Homo sapiens: one gene and its partner. The protein of the gene in region 1 interacts with the protein of each later gene in a pairwise test. Each region holds a gene or a part of one and is shown in the gene's direction. Other genes may lie near its edges.

The links. Proteins that work in one complex are often made in the same cells at the same time.
Region 2: the proteins of SPATA22 (region 1) and ATXN10 interact in binary tests that used the Homo sapiens proteins (3 or more experiments, as listed by UniProt).

The regions. Positions count from the first base shown.
Region 1 is NC_000017.11:3,461,820-3,465,319, reverse strand, and holds part of SPATA22 (spermatogenesis-associated protein 22), read left to right. Parts: intron 1-2,552; coding exon 2,553-2,613; intron 2,614-2,741; coding exon 2,742-2,837; intron 2,838-3,500. UniProt on the Homo sapiens protein: Meiosis-specific protein required for homologous recombination in meiosis I.
Region 2 is NC_000022.11:45,737,834-45,741,333, forward strand, and holds part of ATXN10 (ataxin-10), read left to right. Parts: intron 1-897; coding exon 898-1,006; intron 1,007-2,535; coding exon 2,536-2,705; intron 2,706-3,500. UniProt on the Homo sapiens protein: May play a role in the regulation of cytokinesis. May play a role in signaling by stimulating protein glycosylation. Induces neuritogenesis by activating the Ras-MAP kinase pathway and is necessary for the survival of cerebellar neurons.

The DNA.
Region 1 (3,500 bases):
CGCCATTGTCATCATGGCCCGTTCTCAATGAGCTGTTGGGCACACCTCCCAGACGGGGTGGTGGCCGGGCAGAGGGGCTCCTCACTTCCCAGTAGGGGCGGCCGGGCAGAGGCGCCCCTCACCTCCTGGACGAGGCGGCTGGCCGGGCGGGGGGCTGACCCCCCCACCTCCCTCCCGGACGGGGTGGCTGCCGGGCGGAGACGCTCCTCACTTCCCAGACGGGGTGGCTGCCGGGTGGAGGGGCTGACCCCCCACCTCCCTCCCGGACGGGGCGGCTGGCCGGGCTGGGGGCTGACCCCCCCACCTCCCTCCCGGACGGAGCGGCTGGCCGGGCAGAGGGGCTCCTCACTTCCCAGTAGGGGCGGCTGGGCAGAGGCGCCCCTCACCTCCCAGACCGGGCGGCTGGCCGGGTGGGGGGCTGACCCCCCCCCACCCCCCTCCCAGACGGGGTGGCTGCCGGGCGGAGACGCTCCTCACTTCCCAGACGGGGTGGCTGCCGGGCGGAGGGGCTCCTCACTTCTCAGACGGGGCGGCTGCCGGGCGGAGGGGCTCCTCACTTCTCAGACGGGGCGGTTGCCGGGCGGAGGGTCTCCTCCCTTCTCAGATGGGGCGGCTGGGCAGAGACGCTCCTCACCTCCCAGACGGGGTCGCGGCCGGGCAGAGGCGCTCCTCACATCCCAGATGGGGCGGCGGGGCAAAGGTGCTCCCCACATCTCAGACGATGGGCGGCCCGGCAGAGACGCTCCTCACTTCCTAGATGGGATGGCGGCCGGGAAGAGGCGCTTCTCACTTCCTAGATGGGACGGCGGCCGGGCAGAGACACTCCTCACTTTCCAGACTGGGCAGCCAGGCAGAGGGGCTCCTCACATCCCAGACGATGGGCGGCCAGGCAGAGACGCTCCTCACTTCCCAGACGGGGTGGCGGCCGGGCAGAGGCTGCACTCTGGGCACTTTGGGAGGCCAAGGCAGGCGGCTGGGAGGTGGAGGTTGTAGCGAGCCGAGATCACGCCACTGCACTCCAGCCTGGGCACCATTGAGCACTGAGTGAACCAGACACCGTCTGCAATCCCGGCACCTCCGGAGGCCGAGGCTGGCGGATCACTCGCGGTTAGGAGCTGGAGACCAGCCCGGCCAACACAGCGAAACCCGTCTCCACCAAAAAAATACGAAAACCAGTCAGGCGTGGCGGCGCGCGCCTGCAATCGCAGGCACTCGGCAGGGTGAGGCAGGAGAATCAGGCAGGGAGGTTGCAGTGAGCCGAGATGGCAGCAGTACAGTCCAGCTTCGGCTTGGCATGAGAGGGAGACCGTGGAAACAGAGGGAGAGGGAGACCGTGGGGAGAGGGAGAGGGAGAGGCAGAGGGAGAGGCAGAGGGAGAGGGAGAGGGAGAGGGAGAGGGAGAGGGAGAGGATCAGTGTTTTTTTAAAATGTTTGTCTTGATCCATTAATCAGTCTGAGGTATAATCGATCTTTGAAAAAAGAAATAGAAGAGAATAGAGTAGAATAGAAAATACAGCCATGCACTGCATAACCATGTTTTGGTCAATCACACCACCTGTGTGATGGTGGTGCCATTACAAATATAATGGAGCTGAAACATTTCTGTCTCCTGGTGACATAGTAGCTGTCATAATGTCATAGCACAGTTTATTTTTTTTTATAAATGTAGCCTAAATGTATGGTGTGTTTAGTGTACAGTAGTGTATACAGTAATGTCCTAGGCCTTCGTATTCACTCACCACTTAATCACTAACTCACCCAAAGCAACTTTCAGTCCTGCAAGCTCCATTTATGGTAAGTGCCCTCTTAGGTGTATTGGTTTTTATCTTTTATATTATATTTTTACTGTACCTTTTCTATGTTTAGATATGTTTAGATACACAAATACTATTATGTTACAATTGCCTGTGGTATTGAGTACAGTAACATGTTGCACAAGTTTGTAGCCTAGGAACAATAGGCTGTAACATATAGCCTAGGTGTGTAGCAAGCTGTACTCTCCAGCTTTGTGTAAGTACACTCTATGTTGTTTGCACAACAAACTCACCTAACAATGCATTTCTTAGACTGTATCCCTGTCATTAAGTGACACATGACTGTGTCAGTGTGTATCACACATATTAAGGATAAGATTTGATGAAGTTTTATATTCTTTTTTCTCCTCTCTATCTCTGTCTCACACATATATCATGCATGTATATGTTCTGAGTTATGATGTATTTCTTTCTGTGGGTGAGATTTTAAAAGTTCAGTAAACATTGGATTAGATGAAATTCATGTTACAAAGTTAAAGATACTATACTAGAACTGATTGTAGAAAAGATACAGATTAAATTATCTTTGCTTAAAATACAATGGATAAGAAAGACATCTATAAAAATTAATAAAGCAGGCTGTGACAGGTTTTCCAACAAGTACTGTTGAAGAAATCCATATATTCAAGTTTTTTCTTCTTCAAGTTTTTAAACCCTCCAAATTAAATAAGTATGAATTTATCATTTTGAAAAATACTACCTATCTTACTTTTATCTATGTTACTTATATCTTTTGAGATTGGGCCTGGGAAGCTGTGAATCCAGAGTTGGCTCCTGTAATGAAAACAGTGGACACCGGGTATGTGGAGAAATATAAACCATTGGATGTGTGTCTGTTACTAACTGATGTTGTTCTTCTACGTATATCTTAATTTCTCAATTTGAAAGCAAACTATTAATATTTAACAAGACATATTCCCTTGAAAGGCAAATACCACATTCAGTTTCTCGTCCTCTGAGAAGTCAAGATTCTGTCTTTAACTCTATTCAATCAAATACTGGAAGAAGCCAGGGTGGTTGGAGGTGAGTCTACTTAAAATTTCTTTCTTCTTCTATTCCTTCTCATTTTCCTGTCTTCCTCTTCATTCTTCCCTCCTCCTTCACTTCGTTGTTTCTCAGACAGAATTACATTTAGGAAATTTCTATAAATAACAACTATGGCAGTATTAATTATGTTTTATGAAAGAGCTTAAGAGAACATGCATGTAAAACTTAAAAAATATGTAAATTTCACAGTGATTATGCTTCAAAAGATTCTTAATATGACAATGAAATTTCTGCCAATATTCATTGCTATGAATTTATGATTTTGCTTATGGGTTATTAATGATTTAATTGACAATAGACAGGAATCATATCTTAGTATTGATTATATTTAGGACTTGAGAACCAATTAGAGTGCTCAGTCTTATCCTGTAAGACAGCCGGCTTCAAGGTAAACGGAATGGCAGAAGAAAGAAAAATGGAGGCTGTGATGCATATGCATCTGCAATAGTAGGGGCTCAAGAAATGAAGAAGCTGGTCAAAAAGATGGTGAGGGTTCTTGCCATAAGGACCAAAGCTTAATGTTTAAATAGTATGAAAAAATTGATAGAAAAAGAACATGGATTTCTCTTGGTTGGATTTTAGTAGCCTTGGATAAATGGCAATATAGAAGGAAATGATTTTGGAAACAAAGTGCTGGGA
Region 2 (3,500 bases), on another chromosome or scaffold:
GATTACAGGCACCCACCACCAAGCGTGGCTAATTTTTATATTTTTTTTTACTAGAGACGGGATTTCACCATATTGACCAGGCTGATCTTGAGCTCTTGACCTCAAGTGATCTTCTGGCCTCGGCCTCCCAATGTGAAGAATGTTATCTTTATGGACTAACTTTATAATCTCTGCCACATTTTGTCAAATGATGGGTACTTTAAAAATGGGGTTCAAAATCTATACAAAAGTTACATTTAAAATTTTTGTATAGACTACTTAATGCTATGCAGTTGGTACTGGGTAGTTTCTTGGTCATGCAGTGTATTTGATAAATTATTTAGTAGCTATGTGAAGTAGCATTTTCAAACAGTACTGTCTTTCTAATCTACCAAGATATTGCATAGAAGTTCATATTTACCCAGAAATTATGCAAGTTCTTAAAGCCAGAGTTTTTTCAACCACAGCATTTTACAGGATTTCTGTGGACAAGAAATTAATGTATTTTATGGGATATTTGTATCTTTAAAGTGGAATTTGCATGCTGGGAATGCTTTAAAAAGAAAGTATTTGCATAAATGTCATGTACATAGCTAGTAATTTTGAACATTTATTCCACTGTTGGAATGTCTTTTTGCTTGAATAAGAACTTTTCTGACTCTTTGCTCCAAGAAGACACATAATGACACATAATCTTGCATTCTTGATGGCAGATGTCTGCTGTTAGTGAAAATGATGAGTCGTGTACATATTTCATACTTCTGTTTTGTTCTTCATAGTTTTGTTTTTCTCTTTGACTTATTACAAGCACAGACTCTTTAAATTTATTGAAATATTTTATTCTCTTACAGTTATTTATAACAGTTAAATAATTTCTCTTAAAATATGCTAAAAAGTTATGTTTTCTTTTCTTTCTAGGAGGCACTGGCTACAATTAGGCTTCTCGACGTCCTGTGCGAAATGACTGTGAATACTGAGCTGCTCGGCTATCTGCAGGTTTTCCCTGGCTTGCTGGAAAGAGTGATTGGTGAGTGAAATATCACACATTGTATTTTTAGCTAAGAAATCTTTGGCTTGTCATACTGTAATATAAATCCAAATACAAATCCTTAATTTTCAGTGTACTTTGGGAATTTTGTGAATATATTTTTTTGAGAGGAATCACAGTGTTGTAACAGTTCAGGCAGGCCAGATAAACCTGAGCCCATGTGTTTGTTCAGCCACTTCCCTTCTGTTAACTGAAGATTCCTTCTCAGTAATGTGAGGATAACAATGCCTGTTATGCATATAGTAGATGTTTCATCAATATAGGATGTGATGAAGAAGGTGGGGCAGGCAGGTTTGCGATGATGATTGTGGTTTTATATTACTATAGCTTTGTAAAATGTGGCAGTAAATTTTTCCCATTTACATTTAGTGAACACATAGAATGGTGTTTTATACATATTATATATACAAATCTTATGAGAAAAAGGTTTTAAACAAGAAACCATTGTTAAAAGTATTACCAACCTTGCTAAAAAGCTGTTTGCAAAATAATTCAAGTAGAACCTGTTCCTTGTGGCTAGCCATGCTTAGGTTTGCTGTTCATTATTTGCAATTTTTTCCTTTAAAAAGATGATACTTACTCTGGAGACCAGTGTCCTGAGAAAGATGACTTTGTGTCTAGCAGTATAGATGAGCTAGCAGTCAGCTGTAGAGGAAGATCCTTAGAATTCCTCATCAGTGTTGTATTTTGAGTACATTGCTTTTAGTGATAATTTAAATAAAACACCACAAACCTAGCACACTTGAGTGATTATGGAAGGAGCCTGAGTTTGGAGCCAGGGTCGATGTGGGTTGCCATCCCAGCTCTGCCAGGTGCCAACTTTTCTGAGCCTGTTGTTTTCTTCATTATAAAATTGGGAAAGTGATACCTTCCTGTATAGGTTTGTTGAGAGGGTTAAATGAGATAATGTGGAAACACTGAAATGCAGTTCCTGGAAGATTGTCTGTTTTCATTGGCTGCCTGGAGGTGCTCATAGAGTAGAGCAGTGGTAAGTTCTTTCTCCTGAATGTAGCTGGAGTGAAGTATAGAGAACATATGCTGGCTTCTGATGATTTGGCCAGTTGGATGAGGGAAAAATAAGCACTCTTCTTGGTTTCTGTCATATGCATCATTATGGATAGATATTGTGTTTTAGACTTCATTGACTGAAGTTATTAGAAAAGTTCTTTCATAAAGAAGTTGAGATTGGAAACCTTTTTGTAAGAAGGATGCTAGCAAACTTTTAGCTAACTTTTTTTGTAGATAAATAGAAACTCTGAGTTGGGGTAGTCATTATGGCTTATCTCCCCAAAACTAGAGTCAAAAAATTTAAAGCAAAGGCAGAAGAGCCTTCTAATCATTTTTTGAAGCAAAGGCAGAAGAGCCTTGTAATCATTATTTAAATAAAGCTTTCTGTGCTCTACCTTTAGCCTATTACAATAAATTAGATTTGTCTATGGAAAACTATTAGTACAACATACTAAAAGTTACTTTTCTGTGGAAAATGAAGTTTACTCTTTTGGTTATAGATCTTTTGCGGGTGATTCATGTAGCTGGAAAAGAAACCACAAACATCTTCAGTAATTGTGGTTGCGTGAGAGCAGAAGGTGACATCTCCAATGTGGCCAATGGGTTTAAGTCTCATCTCATTCGTCTGATTGGAAATCTGTGTTACAAGAATAAAGATAACCAAGACAAGGTAAGAGGATTTCTTAGTATGTATTATACATGTATGGCTTCATTTAGAATATAGTCCTTGGAAGACATTCACTCTTTTGGAGTGAAAGCTTGAGGTGCTTAGAAAGTAGCTTGGATAGAGAGATATATATTTTATATGAATACACACACACACACACACACACACACACACACACACACACATATATATACACACACACACGTGTGTGTGTGTGTGTATATATATATATGTATATGTTAATATATAGGCTCTTTGGAGCCTAGACAAATTTCTAACACACAGTAGATATTTAATAAACACTAGTTATTATTGCCTATTATCTTAAAAAACAAAGCTTAGATCTATATCCTATGTTTATGGACGATAGCATCATAAGCCTTTTCTTCTAGATGTTTTAAAATGGATATAAAAGGAATATAATATTTAAGTATGAAGTCTTTGAGGACCTAGTAGGCTGCTTTTAGAAACCTCTTATGTGCAGAAGAGCTTAAAGGTAGTTATATTGAGAATGTGAGAGAATGGTAAGAAAGATCTCAGGGCAGTTGGACCACATGCTTCAGATTGATCTCGCCTTTCTGTATTTTTCTGGAGTTTTACTTCGGGTGGCATTTGATTTGCTTAGTTAAATATTAATTAAATTTCTGCCAGATTATATTTTTCTAAGATGGTGGCAGAATGTCTTGCATTGTACATGTGTGTCTGCAGTATGACTTTGCCACTCCCCTGTCGAGGGTTGGCATCTATTTCTCCATCCACTTGAATCTGGGCAGGCCCTGTGGCTGCTGTGAGCAATCA